2 linked regions of the Homo sapiens genome follow. The protein of the gene in region 1 purifies or fractionates together with the protein of each later gene. This does not show direct contact. Each region holds a gene or a part of one and is shown on either strand. Other genes may lie near its edges. The genes, in order: CGN and PPP1R9A.

Region 1 (7,958 bases):
CACAACCCAGATGTCCACGAATTGATGACTGGACTAAACACGGTATACCCACAGAGTGGAATGTTATTCAGCCATAAAAAGGAATGAAGTACTCATACTTGCTACCACATGGACAAACCTTGAAAACACTATGCTAGGTGAAAGAAGCCAGACCCTTAAGGCCCATATATTATAGGATTCAATTATATTAAATATCCAGAATAGGTAAATCCAGAGACAAAAAGTAGATTAGTGGTTGCCATTGGGTGGGGGGAATTATTGCTAATGGGTTTGGCGCCTTTGAGGGGGTAATGAAAATGTTCTGTAATTAAATAGTGATGATGGTTGTACAACTTTGTTAATATAATAAAAACCACTGGGGGCCAGGCGCCAGTGGCTCATGCCTGCAGTTTGGGAGGCTGAGGCGGGTGGATCACCTGAGGTCAGGAGTTCAAAACCAGCCTGGACAACATGGTGAAACCCTGTCTCTACCAAAAATACAAAAATTAGCCGGGCGTGGTGGTGTGTGCCTGTAATCCCAGCTGCTTGGGAAGCTGAGGCAGGAGAATGGCTTGAACCAGAAGGCAGAGGTTGCAGTGAGCCGAGATTGTGCCACTGCACTCCAGCTTGGGTAGCAGAGTAAGACTCCATCTCAAAAAGAAAAAAAAAACCCATTGGATTGTACACAAAGATGACTTTTATAGCATGTAAAATATAACTCCATAAAAAAAAAAATACCATGAAGGGAGAGTACATGAAGGTATGGCTAGTAAGGCTGGTTGTTTAAAAAAAATACAGTGTGAGGCTGGGTGCGGTGGCTCACGCCTGTAATCCCGGCACTTTGGGAGGCCAAGGAGGGCGGATCACAAGGTCAGGAGATCAAGACCAACCTGGTTAACACGGTGAAACCATGTTTCACGGTGAAACACTGAGTACGTGTATTTTTTTTGTAAAAATACAAAAAAAATTAGCCGGGCGTGGTGGTGGGCGCCTGTAGTCCCAGCAACTCGGGAGGCTGAGGCAGGAGAACGGCGTGAACCCAGGAGGCGGAGCTTGCAGTGAGCCGAGATCACGCCACTGCATTCCACCCTGGGTGACAGAGTGAGACTCCGTCTCAAAAAAAAAAAAAAAAAAAAAAATATATATATATATATAGTGTGGCCATGGGATCTCCAACTGCATGCAAGAGCAACCTGGAGAGACTTTGACAGAACAGGTCAGCACAATCCCTGCAGCTGCCACTTGTCTTTCGTGTGTGTGTGTGTGTGTGTGTGTGTGTGTATAAAACCAAAATGTGTGACACAATAAATGCTGGCACAGCTCTGATTTCTTTTAAAAAGAAAATTAAAATAGGAGTTCTGGTTCTAATTATTAGCTATTAGCTACTTCTGAAATTCAGAAAGTACCATAATTAGGCTAAAGGGTTATATAATATGTAGTGAATCTTCAATGTAATACCATATACTCTGCTATTTTTCTTTTGCTAATTAGTTTTGTTACATTAGTAACCAGGCCATGCCAACACAAGTATTCCAGTCCATGTGATGATATTTCTCAATGTAAATTAATAAACTGAAATTCTAATGGTAAACATTTTTTCATAAATGTAGTTAGAGACCCCTCTGAAAGACAAAGCAGCTTTTGCCATGCTGACCAAATTAGATTTCTGAGCCTGCAAAAATCATCCTGGAGTTTCACAAATCCACCTAAATGCTGCTACCCATGACGTCTCTTGGGAGTCGGCCAGCAGCCTCTGGCTATACCCCAACCTGGGTTCTGAGAGCACTTTCCATTAGAAACCTCTATGCTCAATGAGGAGACTGGTGCTGCTGTGCTGGAAAGAGATCAAGCTGAGCAGGCAGGATGAGGCCTGGAAACCAAGCACACAGGAGATAGCCCCACTAGCAAGAAGGCCCTCATGGAGAGGTAAGGCAGGTGTTCATCACCCCTACCTACCATTCTGCCCCCCAATTCCCAAATACCTTCTTGAGCACCTCAACCTGGCGAGTATCTCCAGCACTAGCTCGGGCCTGCTCTAATTCCCTCTGCAAGACCTCTATCTTCTCTCCAAGCTCCTCTTCCATCTCCTCCTTCTCCATTCGCAGCTGCAGGAGTCTGAGCCAGGCAAGGTGAAATAAAGGGGAAAGGGAACAGAGTAAGGCCACATGCCTGGGGGAGGTTAGCATGACAATAAAAGCCACCTCTCTGGAGGCCAACACGCTGGGCACCAACTCTCAAGAGGAAGGAAGGTGAACGTGGAAAAGAGCAGTTTGAGAAATGGGAGAGTAAGAGCATACCATAGATAGAAAGGAAGTGGGCCAGGCATGGTGGCTCATGCCTGTAATCCCAGCAATTTGGGAGGCCAAGGCAGATGGATCACTTGAGCCCAGGAGTTCAAGACCAGCCTGGGCAACATAATGAAACCCCGTCTCTACAAAAAATACAAAAATTAGCCAAGTGTGGTGGTGCATGCCTATAGTCCCACCTATTCGGGAGGCTGAGGTGGGAGGATGGCTTGAGCCCAGGAGGTGGAGGTTGCAGTGAGCCCAGACTGTGCCACTGCACTCCAGCCTGGGCAACAGAGCAAGACCCTGTCTCAAAAAAAAGAAGAAAGGGACTGGGTGCAGTGGCTCACGCCTGTAATCCCAGCGTTTTGGGGGGCCGAGGTGGGAGGATCACGAAGTCAGGAGTTCAAGACCAGCCTGGCCAATATGGTGAAACCCCGTCTCTACTAAAAATACAAAAAACCCAGGCCTAGTGGCAGGCGCCTATAATCCCAGCTACTCGGGAGGCTGAGGCAGGAGAATCGCTTGAACCCAGGAGGCGGAGGCTGCAGTGAGCCAAGACTGCACCACTGCACTCTAGCCTGGGCAACAGAGTGTGACTCCATCTCAAAAAAAAAAAAAAAGGAGAAAGGGGGCCAGGCGCAGCGGCTCACACCCGTAATCCCAGTGCTTTGGGAGGCAAGGTGGACAGATCACCTGAGGTCAGGAGTTCGAGACTGGCCTGGCCAACATGGTAAAACCTCATCTCTACTAAAAATACAAAAATTAGCTGGGCGTAGTGGCATGCGCCTGTAATCCCAGCTACTTGGGAGGCTGAGGCAGGAGAATCTGTTCAACTCAGGAGGCAGAGGTTGCAGTGAGCCAAGATCGTGCCATGACACTCCAGCCTGGGAAACAAGAGCGAAACTCTGTCCCAAAAAATAAATTAAAATTAAAATTAAAATTAAAAATTAAAAAAAAGAAAGGAAGTGGCATATGAATCATGGGTATTTCTGAGAGGGCCAATGTCCTTACTCCTGCTTGGTGGCTCTAAGATCCTCCTTGTTCTTCTGGAACATACTCTGCCAATGCCCTGTCTCCTCTGAAGTCTCCTCCAGCTCCCTCTGCAGCCCTCGCACAAGGGCTGACATCTTCTGCCTCTCGGCCTCCAGCACTGCATGGTCCTAGAGAAGGGGAGAGTTGGACACCAGAAGGCTCAGAGGGAAGAGGTCACTTCAAATCAAAGTGTGAGTGTGTACAAGGAAAGGCTTAGACCCAGAGGGCACCATGCCAGGTGCACCCCCTGACACTCTTGTGGTACCTGGTACAATGCTAGCAGAGATTCTCTCCTCAAGTCACAGTCCACCCCTCTATCATCTACAGGAAACCTCCCCAGTTATTTCCCCTTGGGACTTTTTATTTTTAGGGGGACAGAGTCTCGCTGTGTTGCCCAGGGTGAAGTGCAATGGCATGATCTCGGCTCACTGCAACCTCCGCTTCCTTGGTTCAAGCGATTCTCCTGCCTTAGCCTCCCAAGTAGCTAGGACTACAAGTACGCATCACTACACCCAGCTAAGTTTTTGTATTTTTGGCAGAGATGGGGTTTCTCCATGTTACCCAGGCTGGTCTCTAACTTCCTGAGCTCAAGCAGTCCACCCGCCTCAGCCTCCCAAAGTGCTGGGATTACATGCATGAGCTACCGCACCCAGTCCCCCTTGGGACTTTTGTCACACAACCTCAAGGTACTTCTGGCCTGTACTCCCTCCCTCTGCCCCTATAGTTTTCCTGCCCAAGGTTTTCAGCAGATCTCACTGTGTCCTTTAGGAGGAGAGGGGGAGTTCCCAGTTGCAACCATGAAAAGTCCAAAAGTCCAAGATCCCAAGGCAGCCTTGTTCTCCAGCAGTGCCCTCCTCTCTCAGACCCTGCTCTTGTCACATGCCTGGGTTGCATCTTGCATGCTCCTGCGGAGCTGCTCTGTGTCTCGCTGGTACTGCTGCCGGACATGTTCCACCTCCTGGTCACGGGAGGCTACCTCCTCTTTCAGGGCCCCCTTCAGGGCTGTCAACTCCCGCTCCCGCAGCCTCAGCTGCTCCTCTACTCGCTGTTTCCCCTCCAAGACCTCTTCCAGAAGTTCCCGGGTCTCTAACAGGTCCTGGAGAAAATAAAGGAAGAAGTACAGGGGTGACCATATTAGAATCCATCTGTTTATCAATTCACTGAGTCAAAAAATATTTATCGTATTAGGCACAGTACCAGGTGCTCTAGTACCAGTACTGGAGCCCAGAATGATAGGTTTCCTTTATCCTAACTCTAGTCCCAACACACCATTGAATCTACCTGAAAGCACACTGAGTACCTGTAATCAGCCACCCACTCCTCATACTTTGGGGAAACCATGGATGAGCAGACTTGAGGATGCTCCAACTGAGAAAAAGCAGAGGCTGGGGCATATGACCCCAGACCCTACCTTCAGTAACACCTCCTTAGCAGGCTCAGGACCCTGGACATGTTTCAGCTTGTTCTGCAGCTCCATCACCTGGGTCTCCAGCCCATGTCGTAAATCTTCACCCTGGTCCAAGAGGCGCTTCATGTTCTGGAGCCTAATAATAGATAACATTATTGCACACTATGTGTCAGGCAGTTCTCTAAACGCATCATATATTTTAATTCATATTTATTAATGCATTTAAACTTCCTTCCTTCAAATCTTGATGAGGCCTCCCCTGATTTTTGCAACCTGCCCCGCTACAACCTGGCCCTCCTGATCTGCCTTACCCTGTTGTATTTACTGCCTTCTCGTGTGTTACAAATTTACTTGCAAAATATGTTTGTTTACTGTCTGTTCCCTCTCAGTAGAAACTAAGCTTCTGGAGAGCGAGCCCTTCATCTATAGGGTTCACTGATGTGTCTTGGGAACCTAGATTAATGCCTGTCACAGCATTCTTGATGAAACATCTGCTGAATGGATGACTGAATCCTTACAATGATCCTGTGAGGTAGGTACTATTATTAAGTCTATTTTATAGCTTAAGAATCTGAGACAGAGGCAAACCCAGGTAGCTTAACTCCAAATCATGCACTACCACCATTATTGATAAAGAAGGTAGAGAGAAAGGCCCTATCCTGTCCTTAAACCAACACTGCCCCTTTCAGCTTCTGGAGATTTCCTTCTGTCTCCTTCAACCCTAGGGGCAAAGAGGGAGTGGCCTCTAAACCTGGCCTAGGCCCCCAAGCAGCCCGAGGTGCGCCACCAGCTGCACTCACTCCTTGTTGCTCTGCTGGGCCTCCCCCTTCCTCCTCTCCAGCAGCTCCTGCAGTCGGCTGCACTCTTCTGTTTTCTCCTCCAGCTGCCGCTCCAGCCCAACTTGGGATGGCTCTAGCTTCTGCCGCTTCTGTAAAAGGGAATGAGAGTACAGCAGGTAGAGGGTAGGGAAAGCCTCTCAGAAAGACTCAGAATAATGGGAATGTCTAACACTCATTGGACACTTGCTGTATGATAGACACTATACTTAGGACCTTATGTGTATTATCCACATCTAATCCTCATAACTAGCCTTGGTACTTGTGATGATGTAAAATATGTTCACAAATTATCTGACATTTCTTTCAAAAGATAAAGCCTAATTCTGTTTGCCTCGAGCACGGGCTTGACTTAGGGGCTTCCTTCTAACAAACAGAAAAAGGAGGACGTGATGAGTAAATTCTGATGTTAGGTCATAAAAAGGCATTGCAGCTTTTCTCTTGGATCCCTCACTCTGGGAAAAAAATAGCTGTTATATTGTGAGGATACTCAAAAGTAGCTCTGTGAGGAAGGCCAAACAGCCAGGAACTGAGGTTTACAACCAACAGCCATTTGATTAAGCTGGGTTTTTATTATTTTTATTGATTTTTTTTTTTTCTTGGTGTTTTGTTTTGAGATGGAGTTTTGCTCTTGCCTAGGCTGGAGTGCAATGGCGAGATCTCAGCTCACCGCAACCTCCACCTCCCGGGTTCAAGCAATTCTCGTGCCTCAGCCTCCTAAGTAGCTGGGATTACAGGCATGCATCACCTCACCTGGCTAATTTTTGTATTATTAGTAGAGACAGGGTTTCTCCATGTTGGTCAGGCTGGTCTCAAACTCCCGACCTCAGGTAATCTGTCCACCTCAGCCTCCCACAGCGCCCGGCCTGGTTTTTTGTTTTTTTTGTTTGTTTGTTTTTTGAGATGGAGTCTCGCTCTGTTGCCCAAGCTGGAGTGCAGTGGCGCAATCTCGGCTCATGGCAACCTCTGCCTCCCAGGTTCAAGCAAGTCTCCCTGCCTCAGCCTCCCAAGCAGCAGGGATTACAGATGCCTGCCACCATGCCCAACTAATTTTTGTATTTTCAGTAGAGACAGGGTTTCACCATGTTGGCCAGGCTGGTCTCAAACTCCTGACCTCAGGTGATCCACCCACCTCAGCCTCCCAAAGGGCTGGGATTATGGGTGTGAGCCATTGCACCCAGCCAATTAAGCTGGTTTTGTCTATCTTATTCATTAAACTGGTTTTGTTTGCTTCATTCACTTATTTATATTTTTTTGAGACAGGGTCTTGCTCTGGCACCCAGGCTGGAGTGCAGCAGTGCAATCACAGCTCACTGCAGTCTTAACCTCCTGGGCTCAAAAAATCCTCCCACTTCAGTCTCCTAAGTAGCTGGAACTACAGGCACATGCCATCACATCTGGCTAATTTTTTGTAGAGGCGGGTTCTCACTATGTTGCCCAGGCTGGTCTCAAACTCCTGGGTTCAAGTGGTCCTCCCACCTTGCCCTCCCAAAGTGCTGGGATTATAGGCGTAAGCCACCATGCCTGGCCCTGAGTAAGCCATTTTAGAAGCAGATCCTCCAATTTACTTCTTTTGGCCACAGCCAGAAGCTGGACTGGAACCTTATAACAGGCTCAGAGCCACAATTACCCTGTTAAGCTGATCCCAGGTTCTTCATCCTCAGACTCTGGGAAATGCTTTTTTTTTGAGAAAGAGTTTCACTCTTGTTGCCCAGGCTGGAGTGCAATGGCAGGATCTCAGCTCACCACAACCTCCACCTCCCGGGTGCAAGTAATTCTCCTGCCTCAGCCTCCCAAGTAGCTGGGATTACAGGCATGTGCCACCATACCAGGCTAATTTTGTATTTTTAGTAGAGACAGGATTTCTCCATGTTGGTCAGGCTGGTCTCAAACTCCCAACCTCAGGTGATCTGCCTGCCTCAGCCTCCCAAAGGATTACAGGTGTGAGCCACTGCGCCCGGCTGGGAAATGTTTGTTTAAAGCTATTGAGTTTTGGGTAATTTGTTACACAGCAATAGTTAATTAATATAGTACTATCATAATCCCCACTTTACAATTTAGGAAACAGAGGCTTAGAACATTTAAAGAACTTGCCCAAGGTCAGTTACACAGCCAACAAGTAACAGAACCAGGATTTGAACCCAGTTAGTTTGGCTCCACAGCCAATCACTTAATCATTACACTACAGTGATTTCCAAAAGACAAGGGAAGTTACAATCCAACATTTATTGAGCACCAACTACACACAAACCAATATGATGAAAGGCAGAAGACATGTTTTTAAAAAGGGTACACTGGCTTTAGAATAAGACTGACCCGGATTTTTTCATTCCTCTCTGCAACTTACTACCATAGGCAATTTACTTAGCCTCTCTGATCTTCAGTTTTCTCATCAGAAAAGGGTCCAGAATAGGT
Region 2 (7,958 bases), on another chromosome or scaffold:
ATAACAGGAGGAGCACTTTACAAGGAACTTAGGAACCCTCAGGTTCTGGGCAGTTAGCCACAGGCATCCAAGGGGGTCGAATAGACCTGTCCTTGGTTCTTCCATCTTCCCTTTATCATCCTTCCCATGTGTCCCCATGAACTTGGTAAAAACCCAAGGGAATACAGGTTGCAAACCCAAGAGAGGGCTGAGGTTTATGAGGTGCTGTGGTCTCCACAGGTTCACATTGCTAGTCTGAAAACTCCACATTTCTGTCCTTCTGTCAGACTCACTCACTTCTGATAAGAAAACCTCTTAGCCTTACTTGATTACAGTAATAGTAAAAGTTTATGGTCCCTCATGTACAGTCTTAAATCCAAAACGCTCCCAGTCTTTTTTGTAATTTTGTGTCAAACTAATTTAGTGGTACAACCTGACCTAACAGGATGCTATTTACAGTCTTCATGTACCTCGCTTAGTGGGAATATTCATGTTTGGTGGCAAAAATAATTCATGTGTTTTTGACTATAGAGTGCCTCCAAAGACCCTGCTGTGGATAATAAGCAATTTGTAGAAGATACATCGTAACTACTTTTCTGAAGTTGGAAGAATGCTGACTTCCAAAAACATCTGGCCCCAAGGATTTCAGACAAGAAATTGTGAACCCATAAGTTGTTTTTCTTAAATTTGGGAGTATTTATTGATCCCCTAAGGAAACGAATGATTCGTTCAGTTCCTTCTTCTTCCCTTACAAAGAAAACAAAGCGGGGGGAGGGACAAGCAAAACAAATGTAAACTGTGACTCTTATTGCTAATAAGCTGTGGCAGAAGCTGTTGGGGGTCTGAGTCTTCAAAAGGAGCAGATCTTTTGGAGGACAGAAATCTGGATCTGTACCTTTCCTGCAATTAAAAGAAAAAAATATGTATCAGAGATTTCCCCGTGCAACTGCAGTCCTCCTCCTCTCTCCCTTTGCAGTGGAGCTGCTGATCAGAATGTGCTTGCAACTCACAGGACCATAGCGCCACCTTTCTTGCAGATTTGGAATAAATCTTCACACGTCCAGGTTTGGAATTAAATCACACTATCAGCTCACTTGCCTGTGTATGCCGTTCAGTTAGCTAGACTTAGCAAGGAAACAGTTCCTTGACGCTCAAATCATAAAGGAAGAGCTGCAAAGAGGGCAATAAAAAGTGTTTTCTTCTCTTGGTCCCTGAGCAATTAAATTGGTAACCTAATCTGATGTTAGGGAGTATAGACCATAAACTGTGTTTAATTAGTTTGCACCCAGTGTCATTTCACACAGTAGACACTTTAATTTACAACTTGCTGCACTGCAGCACTTTTCTAGGCCTTTTACTATGTAATAAGGCATTCTTGTAGCTGCTGAGGCTTTACAAATATAGATACACTTTCTTAGTTCAGATTTTTTCTTTCTTTTCAATTTTCAGTTGCAAATCAAACATGCAGTTACAGAAGCAGAGATTCAAAAATTGAAGACCAAGGTAAGCACCGAAACATGGTGTTTGAATTTTACTTTTTAAACTTCAGATACTATGAATAAATCCAATCCTAGGACTAAAGGTTTTGTCCCTGTATATTTGAAAGAATGCAAATGTGATAGATTCATTTTCACTGTCAGGTACGTAGACAAACCTGCCAGTGAGAGCAAACACCCACATCCCCCTCAGTGCAAATAACACAATATTTTAGATATATATATTTATGTATTTGCACATATGTGGCCTCTGAGATTTCCTTAAAAAGTAATATTTTTAATGGTTCAAGTATGCAAAGTATGTTTTGATTACTAATTCCTTAAGCAAAGCTACTATATCTCCTCTTCACTTACCTTATTATAAATAGATTTAATCATTTGTAGGAACAAATTTAGTATAGCACATCAATGTTTTATAAACCATTTCTAATTTCTAATAATTAAATCTTATAAACTTAATACATGCATAATTTAAGTGCCAGGTACTACTGGAAATTTTTAGTTGTTTGGTTCACATAATTTAAATTTGTGGGGGAGAAAAGGTCTTGATAAAAGGGAGTATGTATTATTAGTCTATATATTTTCATTGACAAACTTTAAGGCACTCGTATGAGACACAATTCTAGCAATTTTGTTTAGTTTTATCAAATATACAATTTCAAAGATTTAAAAATATATTTTAAATTACTTTTAAAGCAATATTCTTTATTGTTTCAATGGTCTTTTAAAAATTAAAACATAATTACCCTCCCCCGCCCCCAATCACCACCACCACTACCACTAATGATCTCTTTTGTTGTTCACATTGAACACTTGTTTTGGTTTCTCCGTGTGTTTTAAATGGAGATGAATTAGCAAGGCTATTTTGGTTAAATGCTATTCTCAGCTAATTCACTCTGCAGCTCTTTAGTCAAAATACGACTATACATCATTCACGGTGTTAGTCCAGCTCCGTGAATAATAATTTTAAATTAGTGGCGGTTGCTAAATAAACAACTTGATACAAAACATTGCTTAATAAAAGATGCAGTAAATAACCTATTCCTGTTTTAAATTGTCATTGTCTCTTGACATAGAAAGAATTGAAGATTTTTTAAATTGTTGTTTTAAAAAGATCTCTTTTTCCCTGTGATTGTGTTTTAATGGCGCTTATGTATTAGACTATAGACATTTAACTTAGAAAATACTATAAATTAGCATTTTATATTTTTTCATCATTATATTGGCATGTAATATCCACAGATTAGCACTTTATTATGATTCTTTATTATTCATTTTGATAATAGAATTCCTAATCTTGACATTGTTTTGGATGCTTTCTAACTTTGTAAACTGTTTTGCAAATGTGTTTAGTTAAAAATATTTGCAAAAACATAGATGTGTGTGTATATAAATACATGTTTACTTTTGCTAAGTGCTATATGATTTTGAACATTGATAGTTTATAATGACTTTGCATCCTTTTGAACTTTAAAGAAGGCATATAAAGTAGATAAAGTACCAGTTTGAAGGCCAGAGAGTTATTGGGAATGACTTTTGAGCCCTCACCTAAATGATCAGTATTGGATTTCTGTAGAAATGAGGGTATTAGACTAGTTTACTATCTATTCCTAAGAGTCCCTAGAAGCAGAAAAACAAAAAGCTGGTTATGGCTTTCTGTTCCGTGGGAGGGAATTAAATTAACCAAGCAAAAATTTATACTTTTACTTACACTATCTTTTATATTTTTATGGGAATTGAGGTTTATAAAGCTTGAGAAATTCATTACACTACATGTAAAATAATGAGCTATAGAATATGTTCATGTTCCTTGAAATAAAGAATGAAATAAGATCACCAAAAGGGTTAAAAGCAGAGTGAAAGTGGTTAATGTTTATCAGATGATTCTTATGCCCAAGGAGCTATTTCAAGCATTCTGATGTGTTATATCACAATTCTGTTGTATGGATGATGTAATTGAGTCTTGGAGAACTTCAATTACATGTCCAAGGTTTAATGGCCAATAATGACAGAACTGGGATTCAAATCCATGCTGAATGACTCCAGAGATCCCCTCTTAACCATTAAGCCATACTGTGCTTCTAACTCCTCTCTCCTCCCTGGCCCTCTCCACTCCCTTTTTAGTTAATTTTTTATATATAATTATATATTTTTTAAAAACTCTCAAAACATGTTGACATTCGTTGGATATATCAAACTCTGAAACATCTTTTACTGCTCACAGAATTTCAGATCACCTGGTGTGATGGAAATATCGTGTGAGGTGGAATCCAATCCATGTTTTATCACTTATCAAATGTGTGACCTTGGACAAATCATTTCACTTTTCAAGGCTTCCATTTTATCATCTGTGGAATTATAAAAATAATACCTGCTTTTCTCATCTCAAGTGGATTCAGTGATTGTTTATGATAATAGAACTTGATCTACAACATGCTATAAAAATGAGAGATTTTTGCCACAAAAGTGGCCAAATTATCTTTGCCTTGACGTTTGCTTTCTCCAGCTGCAGGCAGCAGAAAATGAGAAAGTGAGGTGGGAACTAGAAAAAACCCAACTCCAACAAAACATAGAAGAGAATAAGGAAAGAATGTTGAAGTTGGAAAGCTACTGGATTGAGGCCCAAACATTATGCCACACAGTGAATGAGCATCTCAAAGAGACTCAAAGCCAGTATCAGGCCTTGGAAAAGAAATACAACAAGGCAAAGAAGTTGATCAAGGATTTTCAACAAAAGTAAGCCGCTTCTAATAACTAAAGAATAGTTATGTTTGTCTAAAGAAGGTTTATGTCCAATAATTTTGTAATATCTAGTGGAACAGAAAAGATGACCTTAGAGATATCTTTCCTATCCAGGAGCATAGTTACAGCATAAATACACATTAAGTTTTGGAAGTCACTTCTATCACTTTTTCATGAGATTATGTTTTGTATATTTTATAGTTTTTGGCTGCCAGGGCCTCTTTGCTATTTTTGATAATTAATCGTTGTTTATAACTGTTAAAACATCTGAATTTCTTTATTCTTTTTGAAACACCTCTATGATTTAGAAACAAGAAGCCCAGCGGAAAGTCATGTAGAATGACTGACTATTGGATGTGGAGCACGCAAGCCACAGCTGGGGCCTGAATCAGGCTGCTCCTCTCTATTCTTAGATCAGTAACTACAGAATTTCCCACTACAGACAGTGCACATATCGACTAGCAAGGCCCCCTGCCCTGCCACTCTGCATTTCTCAGCTGTTGAGAGAATCAGGAGGGCCTCCTTTCACTGCAGGGAGAGAGACCATTACCACATTCTGCTTTTGATTTTCAACAGCTGTTTCTGAGCTACTGCTCCTTTGCTTCCATCTCTTGGATCTCGGTGTAATGTCACGGAGACTGACCACGGAGATTTTTACTAGATTTTTTTCATCAGTTACTTCTGGCTAGTTAGAACAAATAAGTAGTACCAGTACCTTTTCTGGTCTTCCATGCCAAGCCTCAGAAGCTAAGCATATATGTAAGATTAACCATATTTCTTTTATTTCCTATTATGTGGAAGAATGTTTTTAATATTTAAAAGAGTTTTGCTATCAAAAGTTTCTTGTTAAAAGGGGAGTAATTATTCTCTGTGACTATAAATTCAATACATCACTGTTTTAACTATTTGCCAAACTCTTTTTCATGAAATAATTTTATAGTAAATTTTGCTAAATTTGCATATTCTATTCCAGGTTTTCAAAATGGAACTGTTTCTCTTCTCCCCATATTATCCTTAGGTCTATAAGTGAGTGCCCCTCTCGATGTTTCTGACCCACCCAGCCCCCTCTTCACTGTTATTCATAGAAATCTTACAATTATCTTTTTCGAACTCTTATCTAGTTACATCAGTTTACTATACTATGCTTATGACATTGGAAAAATGGAATTATTTCTACCTGACAAGTAATTATCTCCACTAAATTACCCAATGTGGGTCATTAGTGCAGTCTTTCCTATCTAAATATGTATGGGTGTTCTAGAATCAGGAGCTACGAAAGAAAATTATAGTAAGCAGAATCGAATCATTTTTCTTTGCCTTGTGACCCATTAAAGATGTTTTAGTTTCTTTCATTACTATACTTTTTCCTCTAACTGATTGAATGTTGTCCATTTAAATAACTGTTCAGTTGCTTATCCTACTATGCAGTTTATTGTTTCAGATAAGAACTTTCATTTATTGAGTGTATGATATAATCAGAACTATTATTTTCTTCTTAAGAGAGCTTGATTTCATCAAAAGACAGGAAGCAGAAAGAAAGAAAATAGAAGATTTGGAAAAAGCTCATCTTGTGGAAGTGCAAGGCCTCCAAGTGCGGGTAAGTTGTGTTCCCTAAGACACTAAATAATAAGATGGTTTTGCTGTACTTGGAGGGGAGCGCTAGTTTAGAGTTTTATAAATGGATTTGTTTTTCCTAGATTAGAGATTTGGAAGCTGAGGTATTCAGGCTACTGAAGCAAAATGGGACTCAAGTTAACAATAATAACAACATCTTTGAGAGAAGAACATCTCTTGGTGAAGTCTCTAAAGGGGATACCATGGAGAACTTGGATGGCAAGCAGACATCTTGCCAAGATGGCCTAAGTCAAGGTTTGTTTAACCCAACCACAAAAATCATTTTTGATGACTGTGTAATTTGGCCTTTTATTTTTCTTTTTCTGACCCAGAGATTTAAAAGTTGGAAATACCTTCCTACTATGGGAAAGAAGAAAAGGCTTATCAAAATAGGAGTCAATCATTTTAGCTCTCGTCTTATCAAAAATAAATACTTTAATATGTAGCATTAACAAATCACAACTAAAGATAAGCCAAATACTATTTTAAAATCATCATACAATTGACAGATTTAATAAACTGCCTTACAAATTGTAGTTCATCCTATCTAGGATGAACTACACTACTTATGTGTTAATGACTAAGGTTTAGATTTTTTTTTTTTTTTTTTTTTTGAGAGTCTCACTCTGTCATCCAGGCTGGAGTACAGTGGTGCAATCTCAGCTCACTACAACCTTCGCCTCCCAGGTTCAAGCGATTCTCATGCCTCAGCCTCCCCAGTAGCTGTGACTATAGGCATGTGCTACCACGTCTGGCTAATTTTTGTATTTTTAGTAGAGGTGGGCTTTTGCCTTGTTGGCCAGGCTGGTCTCGAACTCCTGACCTCAGGTGATCCACCTGCCTTGGCTTCCTAGAGTGCTAGGATTACAGGCATGAGCCACCGCGCCCAGCCAAGCTTTAGAATGTTTAAGTCACTAGAATAAAGATCTTTTTCATAATATCAGAAGGCAGACTGCTGCTTTCAGCACTTGAGATTCATGTAGTTAACGAAGTCCATATAGTTTTGTGCTTTTACCATGGTGTACTGTGTATACTTCTTAGGTCTTTCATGTCAAAGACCAAGTAAGACCAAAACACTGGAAACATTTGGTATTATAAATGATTATCTTCATTCATACACCAACCATAAATAAATTACTTATGTTCTTACACACACAACATTCTTAGATTGCACGTGTATGAACATGAATGACTGTTTTAATATCTGTGGTATATTTGCAAATTAGAAAACACATAATAATTATAAAGATAAATACACAGGAATGTGTGGCTTCATCTTTTTAAATATATACATAGTAGTCCCTGGAAAATGAAAATAAAAGAATGTGGTGCAGCAGGGTTGTCATGACAGGACCGACAACTCAGAGGCAACACTTTGACGTGCAGTAAAACCCTGTTATAATGGGCTTTTTAGTTTTTTCGTGATCTTTCTCACATATTAAACTGTCTCCAGTGAAGTTTTCCTGATAAGCAAGTGTTTATATCCTATCATGAACTTTTAGAACTAAGCTCTTAGCCATTAAAAATGGAAAGGATTAGAAATCTTCATTTAAAATTAAAATGATATCTAGAGATTTGAATCCATTCACTGGGTTTATATCCTTCTAATGGGTTTTCCCTAAATAGGATGTAATTTATAAATAGTGCCTCTTAGGCAGCTGAAAGAGGAGGATTTAGCATTAGCATTACGACTAAGTGAGGAGCTGTGTGACTTCAGGAAGAGTATTTAGCTTCTCTGGGTTGATATTACTGTGCATATTATTTTAAAAGTAGTATTTCCTTCTTCACCACTTTAAGGCCTGTTTTGAAACTATATGGTTTAGTCTTTGAAGCCAAAAAAGTAATTTATTTGAGCTCTTATGGAATTATAATTTTTATACCTGGAACACTATAAGATTGATATCTAAAGAAAAACATCAGGAATCAAACCAAATTTTTTACCTTTTTGAATATTTTAATTTTTAAAAAATTATAGTTTATATATAATAAATACATATTCCTGCTGTGGCATACTCAAAGTATGAGCAGTATCTAGTAGCTTTTCATTTCTATTCATTTCTTTCAGTTTAGAAATCTGTATCTTTTCAAACATATAATTAATGGTGTTTATTAAATTATATGACTACA

Evidence for each region.
Region 2: the proteins of CGN (region 1) and PPP1R9A purify together in Homo sapiens (affinity purification with mass spectrometry; 2 studies listed by BioGRID and IntAct, with this or other methods). This does not show direct contact.

What each region holds. Positions count from the first base shown.
Region 1 is NC_000001.11:151,521,111-151,529,068, reverse strand, and holds part of CGN (cingulin), read right to left. Parts: intron 5,636-7,958; coding exon 5,508-5,635; intron 4,844-5,507; coding exon 4,711-4,843; intron 4,396-4,710; coding exon 4,183-4,395; intron 3,428-4,182; coding exon 3,279-3,427; intron 2,095-3,278; coding exon 1,962-2,094; intron 1,239-1,961; exon of another isoform or gene 1,131-1,238; intron 1-1,130. UniProt on the Homo sapiens protein: Probably plays a role in the formation and regulation of the tight junction (TJ) paracellular permeability barrier.
Region 2 is NC_000007.14:95,246,045-95,254,002, forward strand, and holds part of PPP1R9A (neurabin-1), read left to right. Parts: intron 1-510; coding exon of another isoform or gene 511-567; exon of another isoform or gene 568-938; intron 939-955; coding exon of another isoform or gene 956-1,043; intron 1,044-1,428; coding exon 1,429-1,482; intron 1,483-3,981; coding exon 3,982-4,211; intron 4,212-5,717; coding exon 5,718-5,814; intron 5,815-5,914; coding exon 5,915-6,086; intron 6,087-7,958. UniProt on the Homo sapiens protein: Binds to actin filaments (F-actin) and shows cross-linking activity. Binds along the sides of the F-actin. May be involved in neurite formation. Inhibits protein phosphatase 1-alpha activity.